Linked DNA regions of Homo sapiens. The protein of the gene in region 1 interacts with the protein of each later gene in a pairwise test. Each region holds a gene or a part of one and is shown in the gene's direction. Other genes may lie near its edges.

What was found.
Region 2: the proteins of TTC12 (region 1) and HPCAL4 interact in binary tests that used the Homo sapiens proteins (3 or more experiments, as listed by UniProt).

The regions. Positions count from the first base shown.
Region 1 is NC_000011.10:113,359,491-113,363,139, forward strand, and holds part of TTC12 (tetratricopeptide repeat protein 12), read left to right. Parts: intron 1-449; coding exon 450-518; intron 519-2,910; coding exon 2,911-3,012; intron 3,013-3,649. UniProt on the Homo sapiens protein: Cytoplasmic protein that plays a role in the proper assembly of dynein arm complexes in motile cilia in both respiratory cells and sperm flagella.
Region 2 is NC_000001.11:39,681,369-39,685,017, reverse strand, and holds part of HPCAL4 (hippocalcin-like protein 4), read left to right. Parts: intron 1-406; 5' UTR 407-414; coding exon 415-576; intron 577-865; coding exon 866-1,081; intron 1,082-2,284; coding exon 2,285-2,482; 3' UTR 2,483-3,649. UniProt on the Homo sapiens protein: May be involved in the calcium-dependent regulation of rhodopsin phosphorylation.

The DNA.
Region 1 (3,649 bases):
CCCTGGGACAACCTGTACACATTCTGTGGCATAAAACCATTCTCATGTTCACGAAGAGACAGAAGCATGTACACTCACACACTGGCCGTGGAATGGGAAAAGGCTGGAGGGATGCGCTCTCCCTTTGCTCTGCTGAGGGATGGATGGATCACCACTCAGTCATGTATTCACTCAGAAAACAGACTGGGTATCCAAGGTGTGCTGAGCAGAGTATGAGGTGCTGCATTTACAAAGTCAAATAAAAGGCGGTTCCTGCTATCAGGGTAATGCCCTGGAGTTAGGGGAGACAGACATGGGGAGGAATAAAAGCAGTAAAAGATGGTGTTGTGAGGGAACCTGGGCATAGTGTGGTGGTGCTAAAAAGGAGACGGTGCTCAGAAGAAGCTCCGCTGAGAATTCAGATTGTCAGAAAATTAAAATCTCCTGCTGGCCTCTCCCCATTGTTGTAGGTTTGGGCTGTGGAGGTGAGCAGAAGGTGCCTGTCTTTACTAAACAGCCAGGATGGAGGAATCCTGACAGTAAGTTTCTCCCAGGGAAATCCAGAAGCAGCTTCCATTGTTCTTGTTTTGTTTTGTTTTGTTTTGTTTTATTATCAGTGTAATCTTTTTGAAGTTGCCACCTTTGAGAATCTGCTGACTCTGAGATATGGTGTGGATATACTATTCAGAATAATGTACACAAGCACATAAATACCAGGTTTTGTCTACAGTTTCAGAGATTTGGTGACCTCCTTGCTGTGTCCGTCATCTGTGGATCCCCTAGAGTCCAGGAACCCAACTTAAGAATCCCCCTTCCGTATGGTCTGAAATTTAACCAGCTTAGATGATATAATCGATCCGATCTGTCCTATTTCAAAATATCCTGTGCAAATTGGACAGATCAAGTGTCCAACTTATTTAGAATCCCTTTTTTCCATAAGAAAAAAAAAAAGCCAAGCCCATATTTTAAGCCAGTGATCCTAGAGGTTGTTTGTGCATAATAGTTTTACCCTCTTTTTAAAATATATGCTGAAATGGCTTTCTCAATTCTGTGTCTGACATTTGAATAAGAAAACTGAGAAAGGCCTATATGTTAGCACAGTGCATCAGGAGAAGAATATTAGTATGATTCAAGAGGCTATTTGCCATCACCCTAGAACGTATTCTTCACTCACATTAAGTGATCACCCGTTTTTCTCCCTGTCAGGGCAGGACCCTAATGGCTAGGGAAGCAATTAGGGCCACATCTAGGGTGGGTCTGGGAAACCAGCCTTTCAAGGGTTGCAGACTGAGGACTGCCTCCACAGTTTAAAAAATGTTCTGAGTAGATCCAACATACCCTGTTTGGGGGTAGCACTCTTTAAACGTCCCCAAAGTCAATTCAGACAGGATAGGGCAAAGGTTTTGTGCGTGTGCATTTTCACAGACGGGGCATCGTAGCTTTCATCAGATCCTCAAAAGAGGTCTATGACCCCCAAAGTGGTAAGCACCACCGTTTCCGGATGGTCCAGACCTAAAGGTGAGCCTACACTAGTGCCTGAGTAAACCTTTAGGAGAGCTCTTGGGCCAGATTTCCCCAGCATTCCTTGTGTGCCACGTTGGGTGCTTCCCAGCTTGCTGAGCAGAGCAGCAGCTTCACCATGGGCATCTGGTCCTTGTCTAGCACAGTCTCCACTGTCTTGGGCCTGAAAGGGGATCCGTGGTGTCAACTATAGCAAAATTCTAGGATCTTTAGGAAGCAGATTAGGGAAACAAGATTGATAATACACAAGTTTATCTTTTCTCCCTCTGGAGACCTCATTAAAATGAGATTAAAGCCATTGGGGGGGAACAAAAAAAGTAGAGACCTACGTTGACAGTGAACAGGCAATGGTTACCAATAGGTAAGTAATTTTAACAAGTTTCCTGAAGATGGAGAACAGCTGCAAGGGTGGTAATTAATGAGGCAGGGCTGAGGAAACCTTTGTATGGAGTACAAATGGAGGAACACGTAGCTGGGCAGTAGCAGGTTTGCCTTATAATACCCTGGAGAGGATGAAGATTTCAAAACTCCCGATACAACAGAGAGCAGAAGTACAAGGCAGTGGAGCTGCGTTTGCTGGCAGGCATCTATCCTCCAGGCATAAAATCAGAACACTTTTATCTCTAAAGAACTGAAAAACTGGAGAAAACATTTTTCTTTCTAGTATACGGGGGTGCCACCTCTATATCTTTCCATACTTCTGATAAACTTCCCATAAACATAGCATGCCCAAACATATTTTCTTGCTTTTTTCATACATGTGATTGGGCAGGTAAAGGGTCAACCAGACATTGCAGGAAAGCTACACACATAAATAGGAAAACCAAGATAAACATAAAAATTGATCCAAAAGAAATAGAGATGATATAGGAAACAGAAGAAAAAAATAGTAACTATCATTTGTATCCTGAGAAAGATTTAAGATAGTTATATCCATAAAAGAGTAACAGCTTGGCATTTATTTAAAAAAAAAAAAAAAGAAAGAAGAGCCGGGAAATAAAGTAAATGAACTATCCCAGAAACTAGAACAAAAGACAAAGATTCGAAAAGATAAAGATAAATGACACAGAAGACCAATCCAGGAAATCAAACATCTCCTTATAAAGGGCCTGCTGATATCAGAGCTCTGGGAGGAATCACAAGGGAGAACTTCCTTTCTCAGAGTGGAACTGGTTGATCCTGTGTGAAGCTGAAATAATATGGGCCTCTGGGTGGCAAGGGGCTATGATTACAGCTCCTTGACAGCTTTATTAAAAAGAACAGTGCTTTCTATTATTTGGCCATCATATTTTTTATATTTTGCTTCCAATATAATGATTGCTTTTGCCTCACCAAACTCCCCGTTAGCTTTTAAAGGTTGTCAGCATTTCTGAAAAGGACATTTAATTATCCTCTTTCTGCTGTACTCAGAGAGCTGCTGGTGTTCTGAGCCGGACCCTTTCTTCCTCTCTGAAAATTGTTGAGGAGGCCTTGCGAGCAGGAGTGGTAAAGAAAATGATGAAATTCCTGAAGGTAAGATCACTTTATTGGTTACAACCCCTGAAATGTACAGAAGTCTCCTATTTTATTCGGGGAACAGAATTAAGGTGGGCTTTGTTTGGTTAATGTGCTGCCATTTCTTCCTTGCTAGATTTTAAACTTCTTGGATAGGGATTTGCTTCTGCCTGTCTACCCAGACCATACTCTGAACATCAACAACAGATTGTTGAATAAATAAGAAAATTGTTCATTAGATACATCTATAAAACCTGCTTACCCCTCAAGCCTGACTTAAAAATATATGGCCACTGTTCTTGATAAAAATGATCTGAGTGGCTTTCTGTAACGTTTCTCAGGCACATTGTTCTGCTCAGGTTTTGCTACTCATGATGCTTTATACAGTTATCTGGAGAGTGTTGGATGGAACTCCATCTATGAGACATGTAGCCTGCAGAATTACCATGTGACCAAAGGATGTTGGGATTTCCCTGTGAGATGAGTGTGGTGAATCTAAGCAAGCCAGTAGAGCAGTTATCTGGATTCACCTGCAAGGGCGAAGGGGATTAATACACTAGGCTGCCATCTCAGAATCCCACCTATGATGTGTGTGCCCATGAGGTCCATACACCCATGTTAGTGTGGTGACACATGGCTTTTATTCATAAAGCAT
Region 2 (3,649 bases), on another chromosome or scaffold:
CACAAGGAACCTACCTTGGGTCCCTTCTCAGGACAGAAGCCTGCCAAGGAGGGTGGGGGCTGACTTCAGAAAGCCCTAAATGGCAAGGAGAGGAGTCAAGGCCTTAGTCTGTGGGCAGGGGAGCCATGAAAGGTGTGAGCAGGAGGGGAGAGGATGAAGACTGTGGCGTGCTGCACGGTCAGTGAGGAGGAGAGCTGAGACCTGGAAGGCGGGAGACCCCCGGGGCTAGGAGAAGAAACCTACCTGAATGCAGGTGTTGTGAGGGGAGAGGAGGCCCCATTATGGGGGAGTGTCATGAGGGGAAGGAACCTGCAACCCCGCCCTGTGTGTGGCAGGGGAGGGGGCAGCTGTGGCTGAGGCAGGGCCTTTCCCTGGACCCAGTCGGAGGAATCCCTCTGTCCCACAGGCCCCGCCATGGGGAAGACCAACAGCAAGCTGGCCCCCGAGGTGCTGGAGGACCTTGTTCAGAACACTGAGTTCAGCGAGCAGGAGCTGAAGCAGTGGTACAAGGGCTTCCTGAAGGACTGCCCCAGCGGCATCCTCAACCTGGAGGAGTTTCAGCAGCTCTACATCAAGGTGGGCGGCCGGCACCTGGTGTGAGGGAGCCAAGTACCCGGGTTGGGGGAGGCGAGGAACCGGGGGTGAGGGAGGCAGGGCACCCTGGGATGAGAAGAGGCGAGGCACCCGGGGTGGGAGGGGAGGCGAGGCACCCGGGGTGCGGGGGAGGTGAGGCACCCGGGGTGGCGGGGGCAAGGCACCCGGGGTGGGAGGAGGCGAGGCACCCGGGGTGCAGGGGAGGTTCCCTGAGATGGGGGCGGGGTGGGCGGGGCTGTCGCTGCGCCCCAACCCACCGCACCCCCCTCAGTTCTTCCCCTACGGCGACGCCTCCAAGTTCGCGCAGCACGCTTTCCGCACCTTCGACAAGAACGGCGACGGCACCATCGACTTCCGGGAGTTCATCTGCGCCCTGTCGGTCACCTCCCGCGGCAGCTTCGAGCAGAAGCTCAACTGGGCCTTTGAGATGTACGACCTGGACGGCGACGGGCGCATCACGCGCCTGGAGATGCTGGAGATCATCGAGGTGCGGGGCCGCGCGGGCGCTGCTGTTCCCGAGGCCAGCGCTTCGCCATCCCCGCCCCTGCCTCCGCGCTGCTCTCGGGCTTCGGGGCCTCCCTGCTGCTCCCCAGCCTGCGATCCCGCCTCCTACCACCCCGCTACAGGCCCGGGCTAAATGCTTTACCCGACACTCGACGGGGCGGAGGGGTTGGTTACTGTCCCAAACCCCATTTGGCAGAGGAGGAAACGGCCGGGTTCCTGATTCCAATCCAGGGAGTCTGACCTCATAGCTGATGTTTTCAACTCATTCTGTCAACAGGCAGGGATTGAGCGCCTGCCAGTTCTTGCTTTCATGGGGCATTCCTTCTAGTGAGAAATTTTTTTAAAAAATAAATGAATGAAGACATGCGGGGTCAGGCCGTAGGTGCTATGAGGAAGATACACTAAGCAAAGTGCAGGGAGAGCGCGTGATGGAGAAGTTACTTTATATAAGATGGAAAGTTAGCAGCAGCCTGAATGGGGTGAGGCCTTTACTGCAAGATGCCTGGGGGAAAGCGTTCCATGCTGAGGGGCAATTAAGGCAGGTCGGCCTTTCTCTGCAGAGTTCAAGGAGGGGCCAGGAGGCCCGGTGGTGGGAGAGCCATGAGAGGGAGAGAGTGATAGGAAGGTGGTCATACGGGGAGCCAGGAGCCCCATCAGTAAGGTCTCCACGGAGTTGGGCTTCTGGCATGTTTCATCCACATAAATATTATTTAGTCTAAATAAAAAATTAGTTGAGGGCTGGGCGTGGTGGCTCACGCCTGTAATCCTAGCACTTTGGGAGGGTGAGGCCGGTGGATTACCTGAGGTAATGAGTTCGAGACCAACCCGGTCAACATGGTGAAACCCCGTCTCTACTAAAAATACAAAAATTAGCGGGACGTGTTGGTGCATGCCTGTAATCCCAGCTACTCAGGAGGCTGAAGCAGGAAAATCACTTGAACCCAGGAGGCAGAGGTTGCAGTAAGCCGAGATCGCGCCATTGCACTCCATCCTGGGCAACAAGATCGAAACTCTGTTTCAAAAAAAAAAAGAGTTGCTCATTAAATATCCAGTCTTAATGACCACATATACCTTCCAGTATCCTCACCAACCCCCAGTGTTCTCCCTGCCAGATCCCTTTCCTTCACCCGCTGCTTCTCGGGGCCCCTTGTGGGTGTTCACACCTCCCTCCTCCTTCCCTCACCAGGCAATCTACAAGATGGTGGGCACCGTGATCATGATGCGCATGAACCAGGACGGGCTCACGCCCCAGCAGCGTGTGGACAAGATCTTCAAGAAGATGGACCAGGATAAGGACGACCAGATTACATTGGAGGAGTTCAAGGAGGCAGCCAAGAGTGACCCATCCATTGTGTTGCTGCTGCAGTGTGACATGCAGAAGTAGAAGCTGGTGAGGGGCAGGGTCCCTGGCCAGAAGGGGCATGGCCACCTCCCAACCTGATGACCTCTCTGGCTGGCCTCCCAGGAGGAGGGACACTCCAGCCCCCCTCTCTGGCCCACCCAGTCCTCTGCCCAAGCCCTTCCTCCCCTCCATCAAGATCTTTGAGGGACCACCTCACCCTGCAAAAGAGACAGGTCCTCCAGTACCCTGTCTTCTAGCCCCACCTCCCACTTGGCCAGAACCAATGTCCATTGGGCATAGGGGAGTTGGCTTTTGCCCCAGGAGGTGAGGTTAAGGAGTTGGGGGCCTGGGGTTCTGGTTAGGAATTCTCTTGATCCTGGGATTATGCTTTATAGGATGTGGTCCCACAGGCCTGTCACAGGGCCAAATTGGGTCTGTCCATTCCTGAGGCTCCAGATCCCATAAAGGGGGTCTCTTCCCCATCCCTTCTACTCTACCTGGCCCTTCCAGCCCCAGCCTTTGGAGCGTTCATTCAGTCCTTTCTTCAGCTAATGATTACTGAGCACCTGTTTGGTGCTAAGGATATGGTCATTTACAAGACACATCTTGTGCCCTCTGGAAGCTCATAGGGTTGTGAGGCAAACTTCCAGCCGTCAGGGTCTCAGCTAAGCAGAAGGTGCTGGAAGGCTGGTTAGTCTGGGAGGAGCTATTTCATCTTCCAGCTCAGCTCCACACAAAGCTGCAGAAGGACGAAATGAAAAGCATTTGGAAGTTTAGGAGCCACGTGAGTGAAAGTTTTAAGAAAAATGAAATTTATGTCATACTTATTTTTTTAGTACCCTTTAAAGGAGCTACAGTCATTTTATTATTTCAGGAGGTTAAAATATACTCTATATTACTTGGTTTCTTATAAAATGATTAAATGAATAGAGAAAATATTAATTTTCAAGGGGAAAAAACCTGAGAAGAAAGGGAGAAAAGACCATGAAATTTACCAGATAACACTTTTTAAGACTAAGTCCTGAGCTGCCACTCTCAGCAGTTTTTGCTGCTTCAGCTCTTCCTTTTTATTACCTTTTTCAATTCAACAAGCAACTTTCTGCTACATACTTACTCCGGTTGGGTGCTGACTTCAGGGACAGGAAAAAGCAAGGTTTGCAAAGAGTGAAACTAGTGTATATTCCGTATCTTGGTAGTTCGTTTCTGGAT